Homo sapiens: one gene and its partners. The protein of the gene in region 1 purifies or fractionates together with the protein of each later gene. This does not show direct contact. Each region holds a gene or a part of one and is shown on either strand. Other genes may lie near its edges. The genes, in order: LAG3, PCDH7, FREM2 and CELSR1.

Region 1 (7,969 bases):
CTGTATCTCCTGAGACATGCATTGTTCAGTCCCTCTCCTGAAGGGTGCATAGGACATGTGACAGTCACCGGGCACATACTCATATGCTGCACATAGAACGTGCATAATACAAAGGCGGTGCCTGCATTCACAGCAGTCTGTGCCCTGCCTTGTCCACTGCACTGCTCAACTCCTCAGGCCTGCCGCAGCCGGCCCAGTGACCTCCGTTGGGGTGTGACAAGCAGTGACCACTGGGTGGCAGTGTGTTCTCATGCCTGGGACCAGAAAAGCCTCCAAGGGCTGAGGAACGTGGGGGGTGGGGCAGAGGTAGGAGCCCCAGCCGGCTGCCCAGAGAGGTTTCCAGACCGGATCTCCTGGAAGACTTGACAAGGCAGTCCTCTGCGCGCCGCGCGTGTGTGTGTGTGTGTGTGTGTGTGCGTGTGCGCGCGCGCGTGTGTGTGCATGTGTGTGTGCACGTGCGCGCGAGCATATGTGCGCATCTGCTGCAGCCGGAGGGCCAAGGACAAGTGCTGAAGTGCAGCTGAGTGTGGGGTGGGGTGGACCCAAAGGACAAAAATATCAAGGAAACCAGGGCAGCCAGCGCACTGTGGGTGGAAGGTGGGTGGAAGGACGGAGGAGAGAGCTGCGGAGGCAAGGGGCAAGGGCTTTTTCGGGGGAGCTTCAGAGAAATGATTACCCAGGAGAGAGAAAGAGAGAGTGAGCGCAAGAGAGAGAGAGACCAAGAAAGAAACACGAAGCAGCCAGAAACAGAAAAGGGGAAGGTGAGGGAGGCTGGCTGGGGAAAGTAGGTTAGGAGGCTAGGGTGGGAGAAGGGAGCCCTCAGAGGCTGGGGAGAGACGGGAACCTTCACTTGGACAAGAAAGAGCCAGACTCAGGCTTGCTGCTGACAGGGAGTTTATTTGGACTGGGCTGCTGAGATCTGCTGGCTGCCTCAGCTCCAGGTCAGAGCTGCTCCGGCTCGGGCTCGGGCTCGGGCTCCGGTTCCGGCTCCGGCTCCGGCTCCGGTTCTTGCTCCAGCTCCTCTATCTTGCTCTGAGCCTGCGGAGGGTGAATCCCTTGCTCTAAGGCAGAAAATCGTCTTGGTCGCCACTGTGAGAAGAGATGGAGAGAGAGACGGAGGGCGGAAGGAGGAGAAGGATGAAGGGAAGCGGATGAGGAGGGACACTGAGTCCCTCTATTTTTTCTCAGCGCCCCTGCCCTCCCCATCTGGTCCTGGCTTTCTCCCAACCCCCCTTCCAGCCTACCCAGGCACAAGCCATCCCTGGAGTGAGAGGCTTATGAAGAAGGGGGGCTCTGAGGGCAAGTTCAGGGTCCCATTTGGTCACCTTCCTGAGGAAGGGGTGCCATCAGCACTCTGAGGATGGAAGAGCGGGAGCTGCTGGGGGGCGGGGTTGCCATGTCCCTGGCTCACCTGTCTTCTCCAAAGGTGAAAGCCAAAGGCTCCAGTCACCAAAAGGAGCAGAGAAAGGACACCAAGGATGAGAAACAGCAGGAGGTGGCCTGCTGGGAGGGCACCTGGGGCTCTCCCAGAGCGTTGGGCACCTATGGAGAAAGTACAGGATGAGGCATAGGGTCAGGACTAGAAAGGACACTTTGTCATTCTCTCAGACTTTACAGATGCAATGAGATCCAGAGAGTTTAAGGGACTTGTCCCAGGGTCATTCAGCTGATCAGTGGCGGAAACGGGTCAACCCTAGGCAAAAGCCAGAGATCAGGTCCCTGACTGGAAAGAAAAGCGCTGGGATGGGGGTGGCAGGGGCTGTTCTGGAAGGAGGATAAAGATTATTGCTGTGGCGTTTGGGTCCTGGCATTCTGGGGCCTCGGACCTGGGCTAGACAGCTCTGTGAAGTACACTGCTGCTCCAAGAAGCCTCTCCCCCTGGTACAGCTGGCATTGCCAAGGCTGGGAAAGGAGCTGGGCCTCCTGTGCCTCCAGCCAAGGTCCTGAGAAACTCCTCTGGGATGGGGTGTCCAGAGAGCTCCACACAAAGCGTTCTTGTCCAGATACTGGAGTCACCTCACAAAGCAGCTTCCCCAGGGATCCAGGTGACCCAAAGGATTTGGGAGTCACTGAAAAGAGTAGAAGGAAGAGATCTTTTGGGATTCTGCCCCCCTTACGTGATATCACAGGTTGAACCCCAAGTCTCAATCACCCTGCACTCACTTGGGTTCTGGCCAGGGGAGGTTGGGGAAGGACATCATGGGTCATGGCCACGTTCATCTTTTTCTTTCTATTTATTTTTTTATTAAATTGTATACAGATGCGTTTTCACCATGTTGCCCAGGCTAGTCTGGAATTCCTGGACTCAAGTGCTCCTCTCGTCTCAGCCTTTCAAAGTGCTGGGATTACAGGTGTGAGCCATCATGCCCTGCCGGCCACATTTATCTTATTCAGACAATGCTCTAGTCAGCTCCCTCCCCTGCTCAAAACATTTCCAGGCTCCCTACTGCCTTCACACTCAAACTGGCCCTGGCAGACCACAGAATAAATACTATTACAGATTCTTTTACATTACTTTCTACTCAAATGCTCAGAACCCTCAAAATCAGTCAGATGAGCTGACCCCCATCTACTTCACAATTTTGGAACTTCCATGATGCGGCTCACATCAGTGTCCCCTGCCTTGTGGTGCCCCCTGAATGAACATCATCCCCCTTTCTGAAGGTATAGAGAACAGGGAACTGACCCATTCATCTAGAGACAGAGCATTCTCCAAGTTGTAAAGTGAGAGATGGGTGGGTGGGAGGAGACAAAGGGTGAAGGGCATCTGAGTAGTGTCCTGGAGAGTGATTTGGTGATGCAGACACCTGAGTTTAGACCCAGAGTCTGGCACTTCCCAGCTGTTTTGAGAAAGTCTTCGGGGTAACAGTATCTCTCTCATTGAGCCGTCTACATAAAACAGTTGACCTTCAAGAGGGCATTGGACAGAAAGAACTGGTGGACTTTGATGACTGATGGGATGTAGAGAGGAGGAGGCCAGGTTTCGAGGTGGATGGATACCAGTGGATTACTGACAGGCTGAGTCAGCAAGGGGATTGGTGGGAGAAAAAGCTGGGGTTCAGGGTAAGGCGGCTGAGAGGTGGTATAACATCTAGTTAGAGGTATCCAGAAAGCAAGTGAAAACTCAGGATTGGCCTTCAGGAGATGTATTATCCATTAGCATGTTCACGTATTCATTCAATCTCTATACATTATTAAGCACCTGCCGTGGGGTGCTACTACTGAGTGGCCGCAGGTGCGTGCTGCAGACATGGCTAATCTGTCATGGCCGATAGTTATCAACCAGTCAACACATACTCTCTGAGTATTCTTTTTTCTGTGTTTGTTTTATACTGTCTTGGAAAACCCTTGCTCAGTAAATATTTGCTGACCAAGGGACGGATTTATTCACTCCTCCCAAATCCAGGCCACTTCCTGCAACTCTAACCCAAGCCCTGGCTGCAAAGTAGACAAGGATTCTAGAAATATATTCTACCTCTTTCGAACCATTCAGAATTTTTGTCACCTTTCCTTCTAACTTCCCAGACCCTCCCGCCAATTGAGAGCAGGGGAGTCCCATAGAGAACGGTGGAACTTTTATCTTGTGACTCAAGAGGAGATTTTCAGTTTCGTTTCTTTATTATGGGGGTGAGAAAAGTGGGGGCCGAGATGGGCAGGCTCTGGAACTTGTGCCCAGTGGCCTGGCATCACAGGGTGGGTTTGCCTAGTCTTTGCCCTGCCAGCCCTTCCTCCCTGTCCTTTCTACCCTGGGAGGGCAGCTACTCCTTTCCCACCTGAGGCTGACCTGTGATGATTGCCAATGTGACAGTGGCATTGAGCTGCTGTTCCTGCAGATGGATATGGCAGGTGTAGGTCCCAGCCTGGGCCTGGCTCACATCCTCTAGTCGAAGGGTAAAGTCGCCATTGTCTCCAGTCACCAGGAGGTCAGGGCCTCCCCCAGGAGGAGTCCACTTGGCAGTGAGGAAAGACCGGGTCCCCACACCAGCAGGCAGGCGGCAGGGCAGCCCCACCCTGGAACCTGCTCCAGCGTACACTGTCAAGGGAGTTGGGGGCTCCAGACCTGAAGAGAAAAGAAAACCCAAAGTTAAAGCTGGGTGCTGCAGTGGGGAGGGAGTGCTGGGGCTGCAAGGAAGGGAGGCAGAAGAATTCAGGAGATGGTCTGGCTCATAAGAGTGCTAAGGAGCAGAATAAGGTGATGAGCTGAGGAGGCTCAGAAACCCAGCAAGTGGGCTTAGCCGGAAGGAGAGGGAAGGCCGGCAATGACGCTGGAAGGCCACGGGAGAAGCAAGAAGGGGTGATGGCAGCTGTGAGGCTGCCAGCAATATAAAGGGGTCGAACAGTGAGACCCACAGCAATGACGTAGGCCACTCGCTGCCGAGAACCTGGTTTGGGGACCCATAGTTAGGGGAGGTGACAAGGGGGGCAGGAAGGAGTTGTGGTCAAATGTGAAGCAGAGTGGGGGAGTTACCCAGAACAGTGAGGTTATACATGATGGAGACGTTGAAGCCATCTCTGTAGGTGAGGATGCAGCCCCAGGGCCCAGAGTCCATGGGGCTGACTTGGGGCAGGAAGAGGAAGCTTTCCGCTAAGTGGTGATGGGGGGACTCCCGGACAGGGACTCGGCCCTGGCCCCGGTTCCGGAACCAATGCACAGAGGCTGGGCGGTCAGGGCGGCTGAAGGAGCAGTTCAAAATGACCCAGTCGGAGGCTCTGAGAGATCCTGGGGGGCTGGCAGTCACTGTGCAAGGATAAAGAAGACTTCATCAGCCCACTGGAAACAATTTCCCAACACAGCAGGGCTGCCAAGCCGGAAGCTCCTGGAAACAGGCACCTGGCTTTAGACTTGTCTTCTCCTCTCCCACATCACCCTCTCCCCATCTCAGCTTCCAGCACCTGGAGGTGCATAAAGTGGATCCCCAAGACTCCCCAGGACCACTTTCCCCGTCCCTGGCCTGGAGTTTACTTGGCATCAGCCACCCTTGCCGTTTTCCTGGCCTGGAACCCCGCGAAGCCCACCCCCTGAGCTACAGATATCTGAAATGAATCACTTTAGCCCCATGCTCTCCCCCCCTCCCCCTCCCTCTGGGCACTCCCGCGTGGGTGGGAGAAGGGGAGCTCGGGGGTGACACAATCTCTCCACAGGGCCCCCCATACACGTGCTTCGGGGGCACCTTCCACTCCAGCAGGCCGCCCACCCCCTTCCTCTACTCTTCTGGGAGCTCTCCGACAGGGCCTAGGGCGCAGCCTCTGCCCCAGCCCTTCCTGCGTCCCGGGAGGCAGGGGATGGGGACCCACCTCCCAGCCCTTCTCCCATCGTCCCGCCCCACATACTCGAGGCCTGGCCCAGGCGCAGACGGAGGCGGCAGGAGAGGGCGCGGTCCCTGAGGTGCACCGCGGCGCGGTACTCGCCGGCGTCCGCGCGCCGGGCTGGGCGCAGCCATAGCGAGAAGTCCCCGCGCTGCCGGCCGCGCTCATCCAGCTGGACGCGGGGCTGCAGGGGCAGCCTCCCGCTGCGCAGGCCTCCGGGACCCACGCTCAGCACCGTGTAGCGGCGGGGCCTGGGCCCCCAGGAGGAGGGCGCCGCCGGGTGAGGGCCGGGGGCCAGGGGATGGCCGGGGGCGGCAGCGGGCGGGCCACTGGGCGGGAAAGAGAATGGAGTTGAGAAGCTCCAGGGGTAGGAAGCCCGGGAGGATGCAGGCAGCCACCCGTTGAGGATGAGAAAGCCCGCCCCAAGAGTTCTCTTGACCACCAACCGTCCCCTCACGCCCGACCCCTCTGTTGGACTGGCCGCATCCACTTCTGGAGAGAAGGGATGCTGGCGTGAGGGTCGCTGATTGCAGAGCAAGGGCAGGAACGGTGCAAGCGAGGGCAGGGAGACTGGGTCACTGGCTTCAGAGGGAGTGACACCTCAGGGCAGGGGACAGAGGACCGGCACGGGTGTGGGGTTGAGTGCTGGATTCGGAGGTCCTGTTGCCCAAGTTTGGGGTGCATACCTGTCTGGCTGATGCTGCCAAGTGACCCCTGCTCTTCGCAGAAGGCTGAGATCCTGGAGGGGGATTGTGGGGCTGCAGGGGAGCTGGGCAGGAGCCCCCTCCTGGGCCCACACCACCGGGACCTCAGCCCCTGGCTGGAGAGGCTTCACTAGGTGAGCAAAAGAGAGGCCAAGGGGAGGGGGCGTGAGCCGAGAGGCAGGGGTAGAGAAGGAGCCTGGGTGTTTCCCGAGGGAGAAACAGGGTGCAGGAAGAACTTGGGTTTCTGTTTCTTCTCTGCCCAGAGAGGCTTTCGGGGTGGAAGGACTGCCCAAAAAAGGGATTAGAAGAATCCACAGAGCTAAGGACCTCAGGACCTTTGTGGCCACAGAGATCCCTGCTGGTCCCCTCCTGTGGGGCTGGAGGTCAACCCTCCCGCCATCCCCGTTTTACCTGGAGCCACCCAAAGCGGCTGCAGAAACAGCAAGCCCAGGAACTGAGCCTCCCACATCTCTCCTATGGTCTGGGCAGCGCTGAGCCCTCCAAAAGGAGGTCAGAAAAGGAAAGGGGGCAGTGGTGGGGGGTGGGGGGTAAAGGAGAAGTTCTGCAGAGAGGGAGGTGGAGGAAGGGGTTCTAGAAGAAGGGAGACCAGGAGAGGGCCTTGGAGAGAGGGTGGGGAGGGATGACCAGAGGCCGGAATCCAGAGGAAAGCTGGAAAGCTGGGCAGATCAGGCAGCCTGAGGAGGTGGGGGCGGGGGTGTCCCAGGGAACAGAGCAGGGCCGTGGCGGAGAGCAGACAGAGCAAAGTGGCCGTCGTGGCTGGGATGCCGTTCTGCTGGTCTCTGGGCCTTCACCCCTGTGCCCGGCCTTCCCTCCACCTTCCCCACTTCCCCTCCTCCCGGCCCGCCCCCCGCACCCCAGGGCTTACGGTTTCGCTTCGCAGTGGAAAGTCTGAGGGGGTTGATTCCCAGCAGCAGCACCCTCCACCTCTCCACCTCTGTGGTGGCGCTCCCCTTGTTTACTTCCTCAGTCCTGGGTCTCCCCACCTCCCCCTCCTCGCCCCTGCCCCACCCTCCAGACTGCTCCCTCTCCCAGGGACCTTCTGCCTCCACGAACCATTTCTGCCTGGAACTGCCCCCTTGCCCATCTCTAAGCTGCCTCCTCAGTCCCAATATTCACACCTCCTTCTTGGCAAGCTCTTTCCTTGTTGCTCAATCTCCTTCCTCGTTCCCTTAACCTCCCAGAACTTCGTGACCCCTTTAGACCTGCCTTTCCACCCATCAGTACAATGTCCCTGGGAACATGGTGGACAGGAAGCCTTACTGCACCCCAAAAAATGGTAGGTCTGAGGCTAGGCATGCCAGCTTTGTGGGGCATGGAGAATAACTACATTGTATTGAGGCTTCATTACGTGCTAAGCACTGTATTGGACACTTTACTTATAGTAATTCATGAAATCTAATGCTTTTCCCCATTGTACAGATGAGGAAACTGAGCTTCAAAGAAATTGTACAATTTGCCAAGGTTAGGGAGCGTGAAGATAAAAGCTGTGAGTGTACCTGTGTGCGTGACAGTGTGTAGTCCTGACCTTGGATGAGTTACGGGCGTCTCCTGGGAGAAATGATGCTGTTGATGAGTCAACACCCCTCCCCACTCCAACTCAGGTCCCCATGCCCTCAGAAGCATCCTCCAGTCCAGAGGTTCCGAACTAAGAGGAGAAGGCAAGGGCCATGCGGAGATGGAGAAATGCAGAAATCTTAGAAATCTCCTAACAGAGATCAAACTCAGGGGAAACAGAGGCAGTGGGACTAGGGAAGGCCCAAGACTGACAAGAGTCATACAACTCCCGCTCCCCAGCCCAGCCCAGGGAGAGTTGGAGGGCAGGTGACGAAACATACAGCCGACCTGGGGATGACACGAGACCCAGGATTTCCCTGCTTGACTGGAAGGAGCTCGCTTCCATGCCAGGCAGAGGGCATCTCTGATGCCAGGCAGCTCAC
Region 2 (7,513 bases), on another chromosome or scaffold:
CTGGATTTTGAGTCATAAGTAAATGCCTGAGGAATAGGTTTGTGTCAAATAATGGAATGGTAAAATTCATCCTAACTTCATTATTCTTTCAAATATGAAGAGAGAGATGGTTAAACAGAGAGAAAGGAAAGGAATCACACACATTTTATCCCTAGTAAAACTTGCAGTGGATTTATGTCTTTTGCCATCTCAACCCCCGAGTGACATAAGACGCTCTAACTTTTTGTTATATATCCGTTTCTTTAGTGCTGATATATATGCAAGTAGAGCATATTAATGCAGGAGAAAGACTGATTTTCTTCTGTAAGTTTACCTATGAATATTAAAATCCAATATTAGAATATAATATATTATAAAGGACCCCAAATGAAAGTATTGCTAAATTATATTATGCTAAATAATTATTTATCCACATTGTTCTTGGTTAAGAAAATATGATATCAGGGTCTGATGATTGACGTCCCTCTTGATTAATTTTGCAGAGTTAAAATGGCATTTTGCCTTATGGCTATAAAAGCATGCTTATCTGTGTGTATGGTGGTGTGTGCTTATGTGGATGGGAGTCTGGTGTGGTTTCTAAGAGTTACATTTTTTTTAGTAATTTTTTTAATGGGCATATAATTTTGGTATGAATTGCAATGCTGATGAATATATATTTAAGGCAGATATGTTTAAAATTATTTGGAAAAAGAAATTAAACTAAAAATACTGTAATTACATACATACTATGTAATTACATATGTAATTTGGATGTCAGCTTTATTAAAAAAGGACTTTGTACCCCTGGCATTATAATCATTTTTCAATGTTAGTTTCTGTTTTATGAGTTTATGGGGATTCATCACCTTTAAAATAAGAAATAAGTGATGAATAATTAAAAGATAATTATGTAATTACATGTATGTAGCCACATGTAATTGCATGTATGTAGTCACATGTACTATAGTGTATTACGTTACATATGTGTAACGTGTAATTACGTATGTGTGATATATGTAATATATAATATGTATATAGTACATATAATTACTTATATGTACATATGTATGTAATTACAGTATTTTTAATATAGATAGATGATAAATAGAGCATACCTAGGAAGGCAGGATTAATTTAATTTAGGGGTATTACTACATCTGAGATTACCTGTTCATGAGAACATATAATTTTGTTTGTGTTTTTAAAAGTGCTTATTCTTACTGTAAAGCACAGAATGTACAATTAAATCTTTATTTTTTGGATGTCAGCTTTATTAAAAAAGGACTTTGCACCACTGGCATTATAATCATTTTTTAATGTTAGTTTCTGTTTTATGAGTTTATGGGGATTCATCACCTTTAAAATAAGAAAGAAATGATGAATAATTAAAAGATAATTATATATGACAAACACATATCGGTTACCTTTTAGGAAACACACATGTCATGGAAAACTTAACAGGTGAGCTTGTTAATAAAATATAAAGTATACTGAGAAAGAGTTCCAAAAAACGACTTTTAATTCTTTTTTAGAACCAAGTTTTTAAGGCCTGTCAAAAGCAAGGGTCATGATAATGTAACGGATCTTTCCTGATTTTGTATGTGACCAACACTTGAAAGTCAGAGTTTATATGACCATTTGTCATCTACTGGCTGTGATTCATGTTAGCCTTGATCTATAGGTAATGACAAAATGAGATGCGATGCACTGTGGCTGATCTAAATGTAGCAGTTGACCTTTGAGTAACAAATTTGTTGGGTCCGTGTTTTCAGACTACTCATCTAGCCATAAAGTGCAATTGTGTTGCTTAAATTCTGGTAATTTCATCTTCAGTATTAATGGATCATTCTGACATAAATAGAATTGGAATTGAAACCTGTCAAGTATTCATTTGTCACATTTAATTGGAATCCAGGTAATCTGTAGTTTTTTGCTTGGCTAGGTTTTAATCAGGATTTGTATTGGATTTTCATTTGGATTTTCCATTAAAATACCATTTTGGATGCTGTGCTAGTTCCTAATTATTATTACCTCAAACATTTTTCTTGAATTTTAACCTATGTGAAACAATGCAGTTATCAGCAAGTGTTTGGGATTAACTTTCATTGTAAAGTTTAGAAGATAATTTCTAGTGCAATAACAAGTAAAATTCCAATGTCATGCTAACAAACCAGGAATAAGTTAGGATAGCTAATGATAAAAATACATTTTCACAAATGCAGAGAAGGAACAGAAACAAGAAAATTTAAGTGAAATGTACTTACATTTTACAAAAGCGTTATCTTCCTTCTGTACTGTAGTATGATGAATACAATTTCATTCAAAGGGCCTGTGTATTAATTCCCTGTTTAACAAGCTTTACGCTATATTCTAAAACACATTACCGCCAAATGTAGAATGAGGTTTTATTCTCTTATTAGCTAAGGAAAAAGAATATACCATAAGAATAAATATAATTTCTTACCACCGGAATCTAATAATGTAGAATGAGATCCACCATTTTAAAGTTCCAAATCTGTAGAATGCCACAGGTCCCTGGAAAGTAACACTAGAAATTACCCCATTTAAAAAATATTTTAAGAAAACCTTATTAGTTATACATTTATTTGTGACAAAGATTACTAATATATATTTCTTTGCCTTTAATTATCATCATTATGATAATTTCATGCTAATCTTTTAATATCAATCTAATCAAAGATTGAGGAAATTGGTTATTTGTTTCATTAAAATACATTTAGCAATAAAGTAATAATTCATATAGAGTTTATGGGGGAAATAGGTAATACAAACATTTGACAATGAAAATGTTAGAATAATTGATGCATATTGCAATGGATTGGTAATTCAAGTTAAAAACCAAACATTAGGCTTAAAAGCACCATCTCATTCAAGGCAAGCATTGACTGTGCAAGAGTTTGCTCTTATTTTAATTACGCAGTAGTCTTCAGACTTTCTCTTGGAGTGGTATACAATGGTTTCTTTAGGTCTATTGTATTTATCCTGGTCCCTACCTTCATGCCATGACCTACTTGATCTTTCCAAAGCCCCCTCTAAATTATCTTTGCAAAGCCAGTTTGCCTTTGCTATGTAAGTCTTTATGATAATTAGTGTTTAATAAGCTCAGATATAGAAAACACCTTGCTTGGCTTCTCATCTCAATTTTGCCATCAGCATTGGGTAGGCTACTGTCTAAGGAAATTGATAAATCAACTCTGAAATCTTACTCGGTTCCAGGTCCAATAATCTGTGATTCTCTTACATTCAATTTTTCTTGTATCTTTTATGCTATAGAATGGAGACATTTGTCTCATAGTAAGATAGTGAGTGAATTTGACAATGTATGTTAATGTGGGCAGGCCAGTAGTGATTCTAGGGCCTTTCTCTGAACCCACACAGCAAGTGCATTTTAATAGTAGAAAATGCATTTATTACATAAATCAAAGGAGTGGACTGAATCAAATGGTGTGATTTCTGGCCAGGTGGGTGGAAATGTTGGCACCATAGTAGGCCAGTGTGGGAGACAGCTGTGGAGCCTCCTTCAGATCCCACTATGCAAGAACCATCTGTAGATCTGATCAAGCCCTGGGTGCAATGCCCTTGAAATACATGAATTATGATTAAGACATTTCACAATAGAATAAGCACATGTGTTTTCTTACTTAACAATGTGAACTTTGGTCAGAGTACAAATGAAAAAAAAAAGGTAGGAAATAATATATATTTTTCTGTAGGTAGACTTTCTTAAATATCACACCATAAAAATAAATTAAAAAAAAAACAGCAGATGATCCATAAACCAGGTTTATAACAAGTTAAATGAGGTTCGAAATTTGGCCACTCTAAATCCCTAATTCATTTTATGCCTCTTGATTTTCTCAGATCTTTAAATAATACTTTTGACTTTATACATGAATATTTTTGAACTTTCCCTTTCCAAACTTCCTTACTTTGTCACACTTATATAAGCTAAGCTCAACTGTTTGATTCATTCCATTTCCTTCATCTCTTCATTCTACATGCATTATACCTTGTCCTTGATTATTTAAACATGCTGCAGTAAAACATGGACTTTTCATATTGCTTTTAGACAGTGTATTTGAAATATCATTGAGAATAAGCCACTAATTTTAAATGGCCAAGTGTAATGAGCATAGAGACCAAAGGCATATCTTTGTATGAGATAAAGGACCTCCTCTTTCTCTCTCCTTTTCTCCTGTCTCCCAATTTTCAAGCAGGCATCTGTCAGGCAAAGTTGTCTAGTTATTGGTTTGTGCTGATTTCACGTAGATTGAGCAAACTTCTCTAGCAAGGCTGCCTCTTCCATCTTTCCAAAGATCCTCATATACTTTTTAATGGCATAAGCACAATACCTAAAATACCAAATACCTGTCATACCTTTTTTCGTCTTCTGCAGAAAGAGACTAACATGACTTGCTAAGGATTCATTTTCACAGTTTTGCATTTCTCTGTGCCACCCTAGTTGCCAGTGTCTGACTGAGGCTGCAATTGTTTTCACCTTTCCTGTCAATTGTGACATGGCTCTATACCTCCCAAGTATCCCCCAAAAGTCTGTATGCCACCACTTTGGGAGGGTGCTATTCACTTTGAATTTCTTCATAGTAATATATAGAGAGATGGATTATAGAGACTGTCTCTAAGCCAGAACTCAACTAATTAAAATGTGTGCTATAGTGGCTTCTCAGCTGTCTAGTAAAATGAGCAGTACAATCTAAAAGAGTCTAAAGAAGGTACTGTCCTAGAGAAGAATTGGCAGTGCTGTAAGTAGAATCTACTGGTTTACAAAACAAGCTTTGAAATCTGATGACCTCAGTTTGAATCCTGGCTTTACCTCCTACAAGGAGTATTATTTTCTAACCCCTCTTAGCTTCAGTTTGTTCAATTGCAAATCATAGGATTGCAGAAGGAACTAAATGAGACAATAATATGCAATAATTTATAAATAAGTAATAAGTTGTATTTTCACTATATTAATTGATAAAATGTTTTACCATTATTATTTAAATAACAATGATAAATAGTTGGGATTATTATTAACTTTAGGTCGTTTTTTTTTTTTGAGATGGAGTCTCACTCTGCCACCCAGGCTGGAGTGCAGTGGCACAATCTCGGCTCACCGCAAGTTCCGCCTCCTGCGTTCAAACCATTCTGCTGCCTCAGCCTCCAGAGTAGCTGGGACTATAGGCGCCCGCCACCACACTCGGCTAATTTTTTGTATTTTTAGTAGAGACAGGGTTTCACCATGTTAGCTAGGATGGTCTCCAACTCCTGACTTCGTGATCTGCCTGCCTCAGCCTCCCAAAGTGCTGGGATTACAGGCGTGAGCCACCACACCCAGCCAACTTTAGGTAAATTTGATATAATACAATGGCTTAGTCATGAGGACTTCATAAAATGCTCAGCCTCACAAATTTAGCATTTTTAAATTACCAGTATAAATTATATTCTCACCTTAAATATTTTCCAGTTAGTTTTTTTTCTTTTGTTTCGAGTACCATAGGGTAGTACTCATGACTAGTGACTTATAAATATAGCAAGGACCTAAAATGAGGGGAAGGAAGTCTTCTATCTCTTGGCATCAAACCAACCGACTCTTTGTGTTCTTTGTCATTCAAGGTAGGGAGATGTCATTATGGTCTTTCTACATTCTTTTCTCTTTTTTTAAGTGTTCTAGTTGAATGCATTATTTTTCAGGTGTACACCTCCCTTTAAAGTGCTGCAAATTATTCACATTAACAGGGAAAATTAGCTGAAAATAATGTCCAATTAGTATGCTTACCAGATTCTCAGTCCTTTCTTTTCTAATCTCAATATTAATAATTAACTCTGATAAAATGTGTGGCCGTATTACCCTTTTATTCTAATTTGGTCCTTTTAAACTAGATCACTTTGCTGAACCCTTATGACATTTGAGGAGGGAATGAGCGCTCATCAAATCTCAAAGTGACTTTGGAGGTCAGTTAGTGGTTTTGTTACCTCCAGACTCCCAAAGCTTTTGCTTGTGTGAATTTCAGCACTTGTTGATAATACATTTGATTGTTTTAGTTCCTTATTTAGTTAAGGTGTTATCTCAGTCTTTCCTGTGAATTCTTTTTGCTTATAGATTACATATAATTCTATTCTTCCTCTGATGTTATTGCCAGATTTATGTATAAAAAAACCTTGTGCTGTGAGGAGCCCGTCTGCCCGGCCACCACCCCGTCTGGGAGGTGTACCCAACAGCTCATTGAGAACGGGCCATGATGACAATGGCGGTTTTGTGGAATAGAAAAGGGGGAAAGGTGGGGAAAAGATTGAGAAATCGGATGGTTGCTGTGTCTGTGTAGAAAGAAGTAGACATGGGAGACTTTTCATTTTGTTCTGTACTAAGAAAAATTCTTCTGCCTTGGGATCCTGTTGATCTATGACCTTACCCCCAACCCTGTGCTCTCTGAAACATGTGCTGTGCCCACTCAGGGTTAAATGGATTAAGGGCGGTGCAAGATGTGCTTTGTTAAACAGATGCTTGAAGGCAGCATGCTCGTTAAGAGTCATCACCACTCTCTAATCTCAAGTACCCAGGGACACAAACACTGTGGAAGGCCGCAGGGTCCTCTGCCTAGGAAAACCAGAGACCTTTGTTCACTTGTTTATCTGCTGACCTTCCCTCCACTATTGTCCTATGACCCTGCCAAATCCCCCTCTGCGAGAAACACCCAAGAATGATCAATAAAAAAAACCAAAAAACAAAAAAACCTTGTGCTGCTAAAATATAACACTCTTAAGCATCTTCTATTTGGTAAAGGAACTGTGGATCTTGACTGTTTAAGTATATTTAAGTTTAGTAGTCTTTTTTTTATTTTTATTTTTTAATGTAAGGTCTTGCTCTGTAGCCCTGGCCAGAGTGCAGTGGCACATTCTTGGCTCACTACAGCCTCGACCTCCTGGGCTCAAGCGATTCTCTCACCTTATCCTACTAAGTAACTGGGATTACAGTCATGCACCTGTTCAAGGCTGTTCTCAAACTCCTGGAATCAGGGGATCCTTCCATCTTGGCCCTCCAAAGTGCTAGGATCATAGACATGAGCCACCCTGCCCAGCAAGTTAGTACTCTCAACCTCAGAGGTTAGACGACCTATTGAGAAACCATTTTATCTCAATATTCCTCTTCTAAGGTAAAATACTTTCCATTGTTACCTCTTCTCTTGCAGGTTTTTAATAAGTAAAGTATTTTTTGCTTTGCTAATAAAGCAAAGTAGAACAATAGGTGTCTCTTGTTTCATGGGGCAATTATATAGTGTCAAAGCTGTGTTTATTCATTTTGATTCAACAAACCAATACTGAAAATAAAATATGACCAAGGCTTTCTGAGGAAATTTAAGTAAAGGAGAAAGAATCTCGGCCTTTAAGATGGAAGTTTTTATGCTCAAGAGATACAACCTTGATCACAGTAACTTAATTATAATGAAAAAATAGTAAGCTCATTAGAGAAGTTCAGAGTGGTGTGAGGTACAGAGGAGGGAATGGAAAATTA
Region 3 (7,513 bases), on another chromosome or scaffold:
AACTGGAATTTTAAAAATCTAGCAAAGTATAGTCACTTTAGCTGATCTAAATTTTACAGTAAGATTTGATTTGAAGAATGAACACAGTAGAGGGCAGGCTTTGCATTCAAAATAAAACAGCCTTGCTACATTAAAAAAGTGGACAGATATAATAGGATAAAGCTTAGGCAGGCAAGTGCAGGGTTTTTATTACTGATAGAAAAGGCTACCTGTGTAACATGGACAAAAGACGGAGAAGTGCTGCCACTTTGTGGAGAAGATAGAAAACATTCTTAAGGGTAAAAACAGACTATAAACTAGATGAGATCCACAGAGAAGTTCAATAGCATGAAGTGATTTTTTTTTTTTTTTTTTGAGATGGAGTTTCACTCTTGTTGCCCAGGCTGGAGTGCAATGGCGCGATCTCGGCTCACCACAACCTCCGCCTCCCAGTTCAAGCGATTCTCCTGCCTCAGCCTCCTGAGTAGCTGGGATTACAGGCATGCGCCACCACGCCCGGCTAATTTTATTTTATTTTATTTTTTTTGACAGAGTCTCGCTCTGTTGCCTAGGCTGGAGTGCAGTGGCGTGATCTCGGCTCACTGCAACCTCTGCCTCCCGGGTTCAAGTGATTCTCCTGCCTCAGCCTCCTGAGTAGCTGGGATTACGGAGCCCACCACCACACCCAGCTAATTTTTGTATTTTTTTTTAGTAGAGACGGGGTTTCTCCATGTTGGTCAGGCTGCTCTTGGACTCCCAACCTCAGGTGATCTGCCCGCCTCGGCCTCCCAAAGTGCTGGGATTACAGGCATGAAGTCACTGCTCCTGGCGTATGAAACGATTTTAACAAGGAATGAGAACTACAACATAATCCTATTTCTATATCCAATTTTGTTTATACCAATAGATGCTGTGATGTAAGCAACAATCTGAGAGAAAAGCAACCAGAAAGGAAATAGAAATAATTTAGTAATGGATTGAAGGCAGCTTTGTAAGGAAGACATGAAGGAAGTAGAGATACCTGATCTATAAAGAAAAAGAGGTAGATTTGTTAATATGAGCCTTTATTTTTCTTCTAGGGATTGAATCTTTATTTTTCCATGTTTCTTTCAGGTGGCAAAAACAGGTTAGGAAAGAGGAATCTACAGGATGAACACTTATACGTGTTTAAGTAACTTGCTCAAAGACATACAGCTAGAAACTATCAGAGCCAAATTTTGGTCAGCATTTGCTTGATTCCAATATCCAGATTCCACCATCTTATACTGCTTCTCTATTGCTATTTCTATTGGCATTTTTAGCAATCCCTGTAAGTTACTAAATGTTGCTGCTTTTTGACAAGGTGGCTATGGTCATGTCTCACCACCTCTGAGTCCAATTCAACATCAACACCAGCAGAACTTGTCAAAGTCCACAGCTTTACTGTGGGATTATCTCATACTAGTTATCTAGTTTTTTCTTGCTACTGGTTGTTACATATTTCATTCAACACCTTATGAATATAGCACAAAAAAGGGCAGCCTAACTTTAGCTCAATCTGGAAGGGCATTATATAGTCTATATATCATTCAACACTTCAATGCATAAACCTACTTATGTAACTCCTTATTTAGTCCAGGTAAGATTATAGCATTGCTTTTAGTTCAAATACTCATAACAATTTTAAATCATGCCCTACATATTTTAGGTTCTCTATTGTAACCCACAAGAAGATCTTGCTTCCTTATCATTTTAACAACTTTGTTGCTGATGATGGGGTGGGGGTGAGGATTGTGTGTGTGTATGTGTATTTTATGTGTGAATGTGTAGTATGAAGAAGAATCAGTAACTGTAGAGTGCAAATAACAATAAGTTTTAATAAAAACACTTCTGACTATGTTAATGATAGATAAATGAATCAAAAAGCGAAGAAGAGGAGAAAAACAGAAAGAAAAAGAAGGAGAGTAAAACAGGAGGCTAAAAGCAGAGAAAGTTTTGTAAAATGTAGGGGAAGAAGAAAGTCAGAAAAGAGGGAGAAAAATTAGGCTGACTCCCAGGATTGTAAAACCTCACTTTAGGTGGCTCATGATACAACATCACAGGCATCTACACATAAACACAAAAACAACATAGTGTATACTTTGAAGAGAAGTCAGTATTTGGATTTTTATAATATCAGAGTAGATTTTGAGCTTAAGGCAATAATTATACAGCATCCTTTTCACATAGATATAATGTTTCTAGCCCATTGTCAAAAACTACGTATATTCTGGCCCATTGTTAAGAAATAGACACGGATTTTCACACCATCCATGCCAGTTGTCTGGTCCCTTGCTGTCAATAATTACCTACAACACCAAGATGGAAAACTGGAGTTGGGACTTAGTACAAATCTATGTGACAAAACAAACCAATTGGTTTATCCAGTGACCAAACTCAGATGTTATAAATCTGTACCTGTCCATCTGTTCCAATGGTGCCACCACAGTCAGCAAGGAGTTCTGACATGTCATAGTAGCTAACGAACTCCCATAAACAGGCCTCTAGGTTCAGGTTCCGGTAGAAGCGCAAGGTAGTGGAACCTCTGATGGACAAGCTGTACTGGTAAGGATATGTCTCTCCAATTATTTCTGGATTTTTGGTAGCATCAGTCAAGAAACCATAATGAGTCTTCACTTCAGTATAATCCAGGAGGTTGGAGCACTTGTGGTTTCCAACTCTTGTGCCATCAGGGCTGAGGGTGAGCTCAAAGTTGGAAAGCTCTCTAGTGGAGATCACGGGGAGCATGCCTATGATAAATCGAAATCATTGTTAACAGTCTTTCAAGTAGCCAAGAATTTTGAACACTTTAAAACTTCTTTATCTCTTAAGAAAACAAGTGTCATAAAATGCCATACAGCAGTGGTGTATGGCATACAGATCAAAGTGGTGTCCAGGCCCGGTGACGTGGCTCATGCCTGTAATCCCGGCACTTTGGGAGGTCTAGGTGGGTGGATCATCTGAGGTCAGGAGTTCAAGACCAGCCTGGCCAACATGATGAAACCCTGTCTCTACCAAAATTACAATAGCTGGGCATGGTGGCGGGTGCCTGTAATCCCAGCTACTTGGGAGGCTGAGGCAGGAGAATTGCTTGAACCCGGAAGGCAGAGGTTGCAGTGAGCTGAGATCGCACCACTGCACTCCAGCCTGGACATCAAAGGTGAAACTCCACCTCAAAAAAAACCCCTACAAAAAACAAAAAAATAAAAAAGTGGTATACTAAGAACCCTGGGGTTCCCCAGGAAAATTTCAAGAGATCCATGACTTAATCGCTATTTTCACAATGATAGTAAGTTATTATTTGACTTTGCCACCCATATTCTCTCACAAATGCAGTTTTTCAGAGACTACAAGATATGATAAATTGCAACAGATTGAATGCAGAAGCAGAGAATCCAGTTATCTTCTATTAAGTCAGACATTAATGATATCTTCAAGAATATAAAAGTGCCACTCATCATTTTTTTGTTTTATAACATAGTTTTTTAAAGGATGTATTTCATGTTAATATGTAATGTATTTCTTTTTGTAATTTTTAAATAAGTGAATAAATAACAATTCCTCAGTTTTAATTTAAAATCCAATAAATATTTATAGATATCACCCACATAAACAAAATCTCTTTGAGATCTTCAATAATTTCTAAGATGTCCTGGATCATAAATGTTGAAAACTGGCCATGCGTGGTGGCTCACATCTGTAATCCCAGCACTTTGGGAGGCCAAGGCAGGTGGATCACTTGAGGTCAGGAGTTTGAGACCAGCCTGACCAACATGGCGAAACCCCGTCTCTACTAAAAATGCAAAAATTAGCCAGGCATGGTGATGCACGCCTGTAATTCCAGCTACTTAGGAGGCTGAGGCATGAGAATCGCTTGAACCCGGGAGGTGGAGGTTGCAGTGAGCTGAGATCGCGCTACTGCACTCCAGCCTGGGTAACAGAGTGAGACTCTGCCTCAAAAAAAAAATTTTTATAAAGTTGAAAACTACCACCATTAAAAAGTACAGGCTAAGGACTGAAAATTTGTTCCATAAAGGGTCAAATAGTAAATATTTTAGCATTGTGGTCCCTGAGGTCTCTGTTGACTGTTCAATGCTGCCATCAGAGTGAAAGCCACTACTATGTGAAAGAAGAAACAGAACTGTGTGCAACAAAACTTTATCATGGGCAATGGATTTGAATTCCATACCATCTTTATGTCTCAAAAGTAGACTTCTTTTTTTTTCCCCAAACATTTAAAAATATAAAACCTATTCCTAGCTTGCAGACCATATGAAAACAGGCAGCAGACTGTATTTGGCCACAGGACATAGTGTGTTGAGCCCTGGCATAAGCAATACAGCAAAAGACTATGAACCAGTTCTTCTCTTTGAGCCTTTCACACCTCTTCCTCTCAGATTCACTCAGAGCAAAACTCCGGCCCCACAGAAGAAGTGGTCAGCCTCAACTACACTTCTGGCAGAACTGTGGCTATTGAACATTGAACAGTGCATTCAGAAAACGCAAAGCCAAGCCCTAGGAGTGGCAGAAGAGACCACTCTTTCTTTTAGGAAATAACTCTTATAGGTCTGTGTTTCCCTGATGGGTCCCTTCTCAGCCCTTTGCAGCTCAAGTCACACCTCCACATGGACCTACAGACTGGGTGGTTCAGGGACCAACATTATGCTATAAAGGAAGGAATGCAGATTCCTGACCACCTGCCCTTCCAATCCCCAGAAAAATCTCAGGTTGTAATAGGAAGACATAGCAGATGTTCTTGTTCTGGGGGAGGTAGATTCTACGTTGCAGCTCCTAATCGTATTTCCTCTCCCTTAGCTACATAAAATATAACTAACATATCAAGTAATTTTATTAACAATTTGCTATAAGTATAAAGTGATTTGAGTGGAAAATAACTTGAAAATGCCTTCCGCACATGGTAAAATATTCATAAAGTATGATAAAGTTATTGATGCACACATTCTGGTCATGGCTACCTAGCCAGAGAAAATAGACACAATATTTAATACCTGTTAGTTTCATTTTTTATTTTATTTAAATATCTTGGAAATGTCTTACAGTTACATGATAAATATTGAGAGAGACATAAAACTCCAGCTATAAAACTGCAACACATGTTGAAGGTAGGTACTAAGATATCAAATACTTTACTGTAACTTCAAGTTTACGATTGAAGATGCATTTGTACTCTTTCATAAAAGCTAGACTAGGTACCAAAGTTTTGTTTTATCGTGTCTGGATATGTATTACATCTACCTAATTTTAACGAATGCTTACACTGCCATAGTTATAAAAACAGGGTAGAACAAAGCTAAAACAGTTGAAAGAAGTGGAAGGACTTGAAGCTCAAGTTGCAAATTGAACGTTTATTTAAGCTTGGTTATTTAGAAGATGAAGGAAAATACAACAGGTAATGAGGAGTCCAAAACAATTCCATGGATTTGCTTACCCAAGTCACCTACCATCTATGTGTGGCATTGTGACAGTGAGCTTGATAAGGTTTGTGTAGTCTGCATCCTCAGGGCCTGTGTAGCGCAATTTAGCTGAGAACGGCTCTGCTCCAACAACCCCAGGTACACGGGGCTGACAAAGACCTTGAAAAAAAAAAAGACCATATTTATGCGAAAAGAAGGTAATCAATAATACCTAAAGAATGTTTTAGAAAATAGGAGCTATTATTTTTCTGTGTACTTTCAACTTCTCTGTGGAGTAGGGCATGGCTAAGAGTGTACATCACGTGATAAGGAATTAGAAGTCCACAGGGTGAGAAGTAATCACAGCAGACAGTTAGTGGCCACTTGACAATTTATGGATTGTTCAAACTTTGAGAAAAAATTTGTTACCATTCAATGTAACTTAATGTGTGCTGGTTATTCTAGGTCATGGTCATATTCACAAAATCATTTAAATATAAAGTATGAACAGATACAGTAAAAATGACTGAAAGTCAGTAGGATAAAAGTAAGTGTAGTTAAACCAAGTAAATGTTATTTTTACTCTAGAATAATATACTTATCATTAGTTATGTTTACATTACTTATAAGTGAATAAAACTAAAACTGTGCTCATTTTAGGAACAAAAACTAAAGTCTCCTTAAAAATCAGAGAGCAAAATATGTACAGTAGAGTTTTCTCTATAGATGTAATTTTTTACAGTATGTGTATTATACATTATAATCCATTTTATATTCATCTCTTTCTGTCTCATATCTCCCAGTGACCTTCAAGAATTTGGACATGAAACTCTTTCTCCAGTATTTCCTTTAGGAAAATAGTGGGGTTTCTATTTGAACATCATGAAAGGAACCAAGACGCTGAATTATAATTTCAGGAGAACTTGGAAAGATACAATTACTTATCTATTTGTATAAAACAGAGAAAATAGACAAATATGTATTAGAATAGCAAGGAAATCAGAGTCAGGCCCCAGCATAGAGGCTGTCTGATTTATTAAAAGAGAGAATCATTTTAAGGCATTATTTAAATATTTGATCCTGAATATATAGTAGTCACAGGTGGGACATATGACCTCTATGCAGTAAATTTACTTTTGAATGCGGTGTGCAAATAGATGATTTAGAAATAGAATCAAATATATACAACCGTTTTTAAGAAAAATCTCATTAAAAATTATTCTGCAGAGTGAAGGATTTATTTATACAGTGGATTTCCTGTCTTTCCAATGTTGTCCCCAGCCACATCCTATTCTCCATCCCCAATGTGTCTTTGCTCCAGCCTTAAATACAGTCTCTCTTGTAATACCAAGGTGTTAATTTGCACGTACCCCTCTATCTGGACTGCCCTTCCCCTCCCGTCCCCAGCAAAATCCTACTCACCCAACAACCAGCTGGTTTCCTTGCATGGCATGAGCTCTGTTCAGATCTGAGCCTTGCATACCATTTTGCCTTGTCTCCTGGTTTTTCCTCCTCTCCCTCTCAGAAGCTTCCCCATTTCTCTGCTTGCCATTCCCACAATATCCCGCATTCTTTCTTGCTTTTATGAGTTGTTGCTCATGCTTGTTTTCCTCTACTCTTTTCAGATTCAGCTTGAGCCTCCCCTCTTTGATAAGCCTTTCCTGACCCACTCAGGGTAAAACTAATCACTTCTACCTGTGCATTCCTGTGCCCTGTCTAGACTAAAATGTGTCTGCATCTTCAACTGGACCAAGAATTCCTCAAAAGCAGGGATCCTGTCTTCTTTATTTTATTGCCAGCACAAAGCATTGTGTCTGGCATATAATAGATACTTAAAGGTAGAATGAATAAATATTTTGTTTTCTAATACATAATTTTGTAAAAATAGATTTTAATTTTTCACTACTTACAAAATATATGGAATATGTGGGACATTGGAAGTATTAATAACCAGAAAGTAGACATTTGTAATATTGCACAGTATTCCAGTGATCTTCAGGGGAAAATGGCAATGACTGACCTTCTTCTCTGCTGATGGTTACAATAGGGCTCATGAGCTCCAGGCCTTCATCCCCATTGGTGTTCACAGCACGAGCTGCGCA
Region 4 (6,986 bases), on another chromosome or scaffold:
TCCCGGGCCACCTGGGAGGCGGTGAGGGGAGGGGGTGGTGGTCACAGAATGACCAGGTGAAAAATGACAGCCGTGTGGCAACCGTGCCCCACAGTGACCTCAGCAGGGCTCCTCACACCTGCCTAGTGCTGCACTGCCCTGTCTTGAATTCACACAGCCGGGGCAGATGGCAGCAGAGGACAAACGCACACACAGCGAACACTGGGGACCCAGGGGGCCGGCGGGGAGGGCCCACACCATCCTCACTTCCTGGCCGAAGGCAGCTGTAGGGCTTCTAGCCGCTTGGTTTTAGCCCCACTGCTGACGTATTTCCCACCTTTGATCTGCTGGGGCACCAGTTTCGTCAACACATGCCAGATTCAAGTACAACTGTGCAATCTTGACAGAGAAGACAGCAAGAGATCATTGCATGGATCTCTCGGGATAACAAAGTCAGCACGAATGCAATATATATACAGGTTGCACCTCCTCAGAGTCCCATACAAATATATAAAAGTATCTCCACCTTTCCCACATAGCGAAGTGATTTTAAGACAAGGGGTGCCTTTGCAAAGGACTGCCCGGGCTGCCAGCCACGGGTCCGCACTGCCATGAGATGCCCGCCTGGGCGGGGCTGGACCGCGGTCTTTGGTCTGTGCCCGGCGTTCCTGAACTCTGGCCAGCCTCTGGGCCCAGTCTGGGGTCCCCTCTCAGTTCTGGCTTTGACTGCAGTCTTAGGACTCAGCGGTGCTGGCCCAGTGGTCCACGCCTCCCTCATGCCTGTGGCCTTTGGCACTTGTCACCAGGTCTGACAGGCCCTGAGCTCCTGGGAGAACCAAGACCTTTGTGTCTGGATGATCAGTCGGGGGGCTGCCACCATGGGGACCGCCACACTCTGGGCCCACTCCACTTCAAGGGCAGTGGCCCCTTGGGCTCCAAGGTCTGAGGGTGATGCCGCAGCCTGTGTGGGGTGACGGGCTTGCCTCACGGTTTCCTGATGGTTCAAATTGAAGTTTCATTACTGATGGTTCAAATTGAAGTTTCATTACTGCCTCTGCGCGTGGGAAGAAGCCAGCAAGCAGGTGAAGGGTCAGTGAGGGTAGCGGCTTGGTGGGGCCCAAGGTTGTCACACGGGGGGGCAGGATCACCCCATCAGGGTAGAGGGGGCGTCTGGGGGCTCCAGGGAGGGCAAGCTCATGTTGGATGAGGCTGCCCTTGGGAGGCAGGAGAGGGGACCAGGACCAGCCTGTGGGCCTCTGTGTTGCTGGTCTTTCAGAAGAGCGCAAGGAATCCACGTTAGAAACCGGCCATCTCTACAGTGACTTTTGGAAGGGGCATTCTGAAGACCTGGCTTCTCCCTTGTGAGTTTGGAGGGAGGGAGGGGCGACAGGGAGAGGTCTGGGGCCAGGACCCCAGCTCCACCCCGCCCCCTTCACCCCTGGCATTCCGGGACCCTCAGTATCCTCAACTGCAAGGTGGGTGGCAGTGGTCCCAGGCGGAGACAATGCTGATCAAACGCAGAGCCCAGCACCTTAGGTCCTAGCATTTTGGGGCTGGCCAGGGCTTCAGAGTCCCAGAGGCCTGAGACGTGTCCCCAGGATAGGGGGTCTGCCCATCTCCGGGGTATCCTCCTGACCTCAGCTGCAGCGCCTCCCCCCTCCCCCATCCCCGCCTGGGCTTCCTCTGCACTCAGGGCTCCAGGTGAGGTGGGTGTCAGGTCCCTGACCACTGCCCCCTCTCTCTCCTGACTCAGGACAAGGGGGAAGTGGGTGATCCCCGCCCTGGAGGCCCAGGCTACTCACTCAGAGTCGGAGCCATCGGCCTGGGCGCTCCCAGTGCGCACATTCATGGCCACCCCGTTGAGGTGGTCACGCCCCGGCTCCCTCCCAGGGCTCTTGACTGTGATGGCGCAGTCGGGGCCGCCAGAGCCCAGGGAAGACGTGCGCGAGGATGTGGGGCTCTGCTCACAGTCGGCCAGCTTCTCCCGGAGCCGGCCCTTCAGCGTCTGCTCCGTCAGCGTCAGCGGCGGCGGGTAGGTGACTTTATTTTTCAAGATGCCTGGGAGGAGGAGACACGGCAAGGTCAAGTCCGGGTGATGCTGCCGGGGGCAGCTGCTGGGCCGTGTGCAGCTGAGCCAGCCTCAGCCCCTGTCCTTCCTCCTGGTTCCCCGGGTCCCAGGGCTAGGCCAGGAGGCCACGTCTGTTCTGCCCAGGCCCTGACTTGCCCCACCAGCCCCAGCCCCACTCCCACCTCCAGACCAGGGACTGGCCCTTCTGGGTCCTCCAGCCTTTCACTGCAGCCCCGGCCTCCCCAGGCACCTTTCCTCTGCTCTGGGGGCTGGCTGCTAGCAAGCCTGGCTGCGCCCCCGCTCTCCTGGTCCGGGGGGTACTCTCCACGGTGACTGCCCTGCTCCTCGCGGTGCAGCTCCACGCTGACCTTGGTCTCCACCTTCAGGCGGGGCTTGCCGCTGGGGTCCTCACTGTCACTCTCAGCCAGGCTCTGGTCGGGCCAGCCGGCCGGAACGTGGTTGGCCACAGCGTCCCCTGAGGCACGAGAGCGGTGCTCAGCAGGCAGCGGCACTGCCACTCGAGCTGCTCCCTTGAGAGCCATGGGTCTGGTGGCTCTGACCCACCTCTCCCCAACCTGCAGGCCTGGTAGGGCTGAACCCTAAAGGTGGGGAAACTGAGGCCCAGGAGGGCGAGTCCTGGCAGCAGGGCCCTTGTTGGGAGCCCCCGCCGCATCTGTACCAGTAACTATACAGGCTAATCCCCCACTGGCAGCCTCACCTGGACCTTGCGGTGACAGTCCACAGAGACCCCCCTGAGAGTTCCTGCCTCCGCTCAGGGGGTTGGCCTGGAGGAGCCCTCCAGAGGCTGTGGGGGAGCCCAACCAGAGTCCCCCCACCCCAGGCTGTCCTTTCATGTGGCTGCAGTGCTGCTGGGCATATCCTGGGAGGAAGGGACCCAGCCATAGCCAAGGCCTGCCCCGAGCCCGCTGTCCACAGCCCAGCCTGGCCCAATGTGCCCCACACACTCACCTTTGGGGGTGCTGTGGACGGCGCCCCTGGCCGGGTCCCATTTTTCCTCAGCTCCCACCCCATCGTCCTCGCTGTCTGACGAGTGTGAGGAGGCGTAAGAGCTGCTCTGCTCATCCAGGGACAGCTCGCTATCTGAGTCGGAATCGTGGCCTGTGGATGCGCGGGGGACAGGGAGGCTCAGGCCCTGGGAGGTGAGGGAGTCCCACCGAGGGCCAAGCAGAGCCACTGGGCCCCTGGCATGCTGACGCTGAGCATGGCGAGGCTGCTAGTGCTTCTTCAGGGGCAGTCTGTCCAGTGACCGAAGGGACGTGGGAAAAACAACCCACGGGGTCCTCCCCCTCCAGGGAAGCCATACCAGGGGGATCCTTGCAGCTCCTGGGCATGAGGGACGCGTCTGGCTCTCCGTGGCTGCCCCTCACCAGCCCAGAGGACACGCCGAGCTTCTGGATCCCTTCATCCCTAGAGAGGCCAGGGAGGGTGGGCTCAGTATCATCCGTCAGGGAACAGGAGGTGCTGGAAAGTTCTCTGGAAGATTCTCTGCCCCTACCCCTTCTGTGTTCCCAACAACAGCACAGACAAAACAGCCTCCCGAGTATGTGGGGGAAAGGTGGTGGGGGGAAAGGTTGGGTGGGGGGAAGGTGGTGGGTGGAAAGGTTGGGTGGGGGAAGGTGGTGGGGGGAAAGGTTGGGTGGGGGAAGGTGGTGGGGGGAAAGGCTGGGTGGGGGAAAGGTGGTGGGGGGAAAGGCTGGGGGGGAAGGTGGTGGGGGGAAAGGTTGGGGGGAAGGTGCTGGGGGAAAGGTTGGGGGGAAAGGTTGTCAGGGGAAAGGTGGAGGGGGAAGGTGGAGGGGGGAAGGCTGCGGGGGGAAGGTGCAGTGCGGGGAAGGTGCGGGGGGGAAGGTTGCACGGGAAAAGGTTGGTTGGGGGAAGTTGGTGGGGGAAAGGTTGTTGGGGGAAGGTGCAGGGGAAGGGAAGGTGCGAGGCGGGGAGGGAAGGTGCGGGGCAGGGAGGGAAGTTGCGGGTGGGAAGAAGGTGCGGGTGGAAAGTTGGGGGTGGAAGGTGATGTTGGTTGAATGGCAGGACACAGGTTGGGGTGGCAGGGGCAAAACCTGAGGGAGTTCGAGAGCCACCTCCCCGAACCCGGAGCTGCGGCCTGACCTGACGATGCTGTCCAGCGAGGCGGTGGACTCGCCCAAGTCTGTGCGCAGCATGTCAGGCCCGTCACCGAAGGTGGTGTTGCAGTTGAGGGAGCGCTGAAGGGAGGGGAGGGGCTGGTCACTGCCAAGTGGTGGCCACCACATGACCACCACGGGGAATGACTCTGTCCCCACGGCAAGCCCCCCACACCCACACCCTGGCTGGGCCCCTGCCTGGCACACAGGAGGAGCTGGCCCCAAGCAGTCAACCCTCACTGCAAACGAGAGCCTCCTGGCAGCTGAGGGAAGCACATCCTGGCCCGCGCTGTGGTCAGGGGCTGCCGCCCTCCCTACGGCCACTGCTTCTGGTCAGGATCCTCGGTGGTCCTGACCCTCTCTTTCTAAGGCCTGGAAGAGCAGGGTTAGGATGCGACCCAGGCCCCATCTGGCCGATTCTGTCACTTTCTGGTTCTGACGCGGCAGCCACACCGTGCACCGCGGGCGGCTCTGCCATCCCCACCGTGAGGGGCATACGGGCCGCAGGACTGGGGCTGAGGCTCGATCACCCTCCCCCGCCCCTCGAGATGCCGCCCAGCCCCCAGTCCCGCGGTGTCCCCGGCGCCTCCTACCGTCAGCAGGGTGGCCCTGGTGGTGGCGGAGTCCTCCAGGTGCAGCTTCCTCCCGCCGAGCACGCCCTTCAGGTGCTTCCGGACCTCCTGGTTGAGCACGCAGTGGAAAAGGAGGACGAAGGGGCCCTGGAGGGAGGAAGGTGGGGTCAGCACCTGCTGCTGCCTCCCTAGGCACCTGCCCTTAGGCGCCCCAGCACAGATGCGCATACAGCCTTGAGTGCACACAACATGTCCGGCCACACGGCCCAGGACACGGCCAGGCCTCCCCTCCTCAGGGACTGCTGCTATCTGGAGGCCAGGTGGGGGAGCTCAGAAACTGAGATGCCTGGGCCAGACCCCCGGTGTGCTGGAGGCAGTGAGGGCCCCGGCTCAGGCCAGTCTTCTGGGCACTCCTTCCACAGTCCTTGGGGCCCCTCTGGGGTCCCCACTGTGTCGTAAGTCCACTTGCTGTGTGGCCCTTGGTATGACTAGAAATGGCCACTTCTGTTCCCTGGAGACACAAGTGGACTTGTGCTGGCCTGGCACTAGGGTCATCGTCCCCAGACACAGTGGGGAGGAGGCACCAGCCCCCGTGCCGGCTGCACAAGGGACTGAGTCCTCACAGCCACAGGAGGCCCCCACGCGGGACCCAGGCAGGGCTGGTTTGGGACCGCAGAGGCCTCCACTGCTTCGCATCACAGCGATGGTGTCACGGCGGCCAGGCAGGGGTCCCGCGGGCAACTCGGCCGTCACCTACCTGTAAGCCGCTGAAGATGGCGAAGAGGTAGTGAAAGCTCAGTGCATCGCGGTTCACAGCCAGCAGCCCCAGCAGCCAGGTGGCGCTGATGAGCAGCAGCAGGAGGAATGCGGTCCTCAGCAGGGAGCTGCGGGAGGGCAGGATCAGGCCTGTGCCCATCGCCACCACCTGCTCCCTTCCTCCCTCCCTCTCTGCACGTCCACCTGTCCACCTGCCTGCCCGTCCGCCCATCTATCTGTCCGTCCACCTGTCCACCCAGCCATCATCCACCTTGCTCCCTTCCTCCCCTCGTAGCCAGGTACGGACTCATCCGGGAACCAGACAGAGCTCGTGTTAGTGGGGGTGGTGGTGGAATACATTAGGAAGCAAATGAGAAAACAGGAGCTGTGAGGACTACACCAGGCCAAGGGGCCTGAGCCATGCCCATGGCTGCACTAGCTCCCGTGAGATACCCTGTGGAGAGGCAAGAGGAAGAGCCCAGGACCTGCCCTTGAGCTGTGACCCTGCAATCAGCTTCCTGAGCTCTGCCTCAGTCTCCCCATGTGTACAAGGGGAAGACAAAGGCGCATCCCCTCCCAGGGTTCAGAGGGGATGGAGTGAATCCGGGTGACAGAGCCCGCAAGGTCCACAGGTCGTGGATGGCACTGAAGACGAGGAACTGACAAGGCCCCAGACCCCCCGTGCACCCCCATATCCGGCCTTCCAGGCCACTCACTGCCTCTCCCTCTCTGCCCTACCCCCCTTCAGACTCGGCTCTCTCCTCCCGGGCCGGGAGCCTCACACTCCTCCTGACACCCAGCCCCTGCGCAAGCATTATCCCTTCGCCCATCCCTGGCTCAGTCCCATCTCAGCTACCAGGTCACCAGGGGCTGGCCTTGTTGTCTGACAGATGCCCCCGTCAACCCCTCCTGACCCTGTCGTGGCTCCTGGACGCTGTGCTGAGTCCTCCCGCGGTGCCACCTGCTCCTTTGGGGCCTCGAAGGTCCCCTCTCCTCCCTAGAACACTGGAGGTTCCCTCTGTGCTGGGCCCCTGTTCCACTGCACCCTCTGACAGTGGGGTGGGGGGGTCTCCTCCCCTCCAGTGGCCTCAGCAACACCCTCACCACCCACCAGAAAGTTTCATCTCCCCCACCCCACCCATCTCCACTCTGGGGATTCCAGACAGCCCAATACTTCTGTGCCAGGCGGGAGGGACTGAGGCCCAGGACTGGCTGCCAGCCCCCTCCCTTCAGCTAACCTCCTCCAGCCCCCTCCCCTCAGCTAACCTCCCCCAGCCCCTGCAGGTGCAACGTGGCAAACCTCTCTGGAGCCCTGGGGCTCACCCAGGCTGCCCCCAGCCCTCCTCCATGAGGCCTACACGCTCTCATGGGGCCCCACCCCGCAGAGACTGGACGTCGGGGTCTCAGGGCCCAGCCGACATGGCTGGCCGGTCAGGTTCAGCCCCACTTACACGATCCCTTTTTTCCCATAAT

Evidence for each region.
Region 2: the proteins of LAG3 (region 1) and PCDH7 purify together in Homo sapiens (affinity purification with mass spectrometry; one large-scale study listed by BioGRID and IntAct). This does not show direct contact.
Region 3: the proteins of LAG3 (region 1) and FREM2 purify together in Homo sapiens (affinity purification with mass spectrometry; one large-scale study listed by BioGRID and IntAct). This does not show direct contact.
Region 4: the proteins of LAG3 (region 1) and CELSR1 purify together in Homo sapiens (affinity purification with mass spectrometry; one large-scale study listed by BioGRID and IntAct). This does not show direct contact.

The regions. Positions count from the first base shown.
Region 1 is NC_000012.12:6,771,364-6,779,332, reverse strand, and holds LAG3 (lymphocyte activation gene 3 protein isoform 1 precursor), read right to left. Parts: upstream 6,814-7,969; 5' UTR 6,481-6,813; coding exon 6,423-6,480; intron 6,142-6,422; coding exon 5,994-6,141; intron 5,637-5,993; coding exon 5,332-5,636; intron 4,739-5,331; coding exon 4,469-4,738; intron 4,061-4,468; coding exon 3,785-4,060; intron 2,070-3,784; coding exon 1,827-2,069; intron 1,543-1,826; coding exon 1,412-1,542; coding exon of another isoform or gene 1,326-1,411; intron 1,090-1,325; coding exon 943-1,089; 3' UTR 878-942; downstream 1-877. UniProt on the Homo sapiens protein: Lymphocyte activation gene 3 protein: Inhibitory receptor on antigen activated T-cells. Delivers inhibitory signals upon binding to ligands, such as FGL1. FGL1 constitutes a major ligand of LAG3 and is responsible for LAG3 T-cell inhibitory function.
Region 2 is NC_000004.12:30,921,144-30,928,656, forward strand, and holds part of PCDH7 (protocadherin-7 isoform d precursor), read left to right. Parts: intron 1-7,513.
Region 3 is NC_000013.11:38,859,509-38,867,021, reverse strand, and holds part of FREM2 (FRAS1-related extracellular matrix protein 2 precursor), read right to left. Parts: coding exon 7,432-7,513; intron 5,592-7,431; coding exon 5,460-5,591; intron 2,748-5,459; coding exon 2,416-2,747; intron 1-2,415. UniProt on the Homo sapiens protein: Extracellular matrix protein required for maintenance of the integrity of the skin epithelium and for maintenance of renal epithelia. Required for epidermal adhesion. Involved in the development of eyelids and the anterior segment of the eyeballs.
Region 4 is NC_000022.11:46,362,215-46,369,200, forward strand, and holds part of CELSR1 (cadherin EGF LAG seven-pass G-type receptor 1 isoform 1 precursor), read right to left. Parts: coding exon 6,965-6,986; intron 5,642-6,964; coding exon 5,515-5,641; intron 4,905-5,514; coding exon 4,779-4,904; intron 4,267-4,778; coding exon 4,172-4,266; intron 3,476-4,171; coding exon 3,372-3,475; intron 3,167-3,371; coding exon 3,017-3,166; intron 2,523-3,016; coding exon 2,298-2,522; intron 2,038-2,297; coding exon 1,782-2,037; coding exon of another isoform or gene 1,778-1,781; exon of another isoform or gene 1,034-1,777; coding exon 1,009-1,033; 3' UTR 974-1,008; coding exon of another isoform or gene 964-973; 3' UTR 1-963. UniProt on the Homo sapiens protein: Receptor that may have an important role in cell/cell signaling during nervous system formation.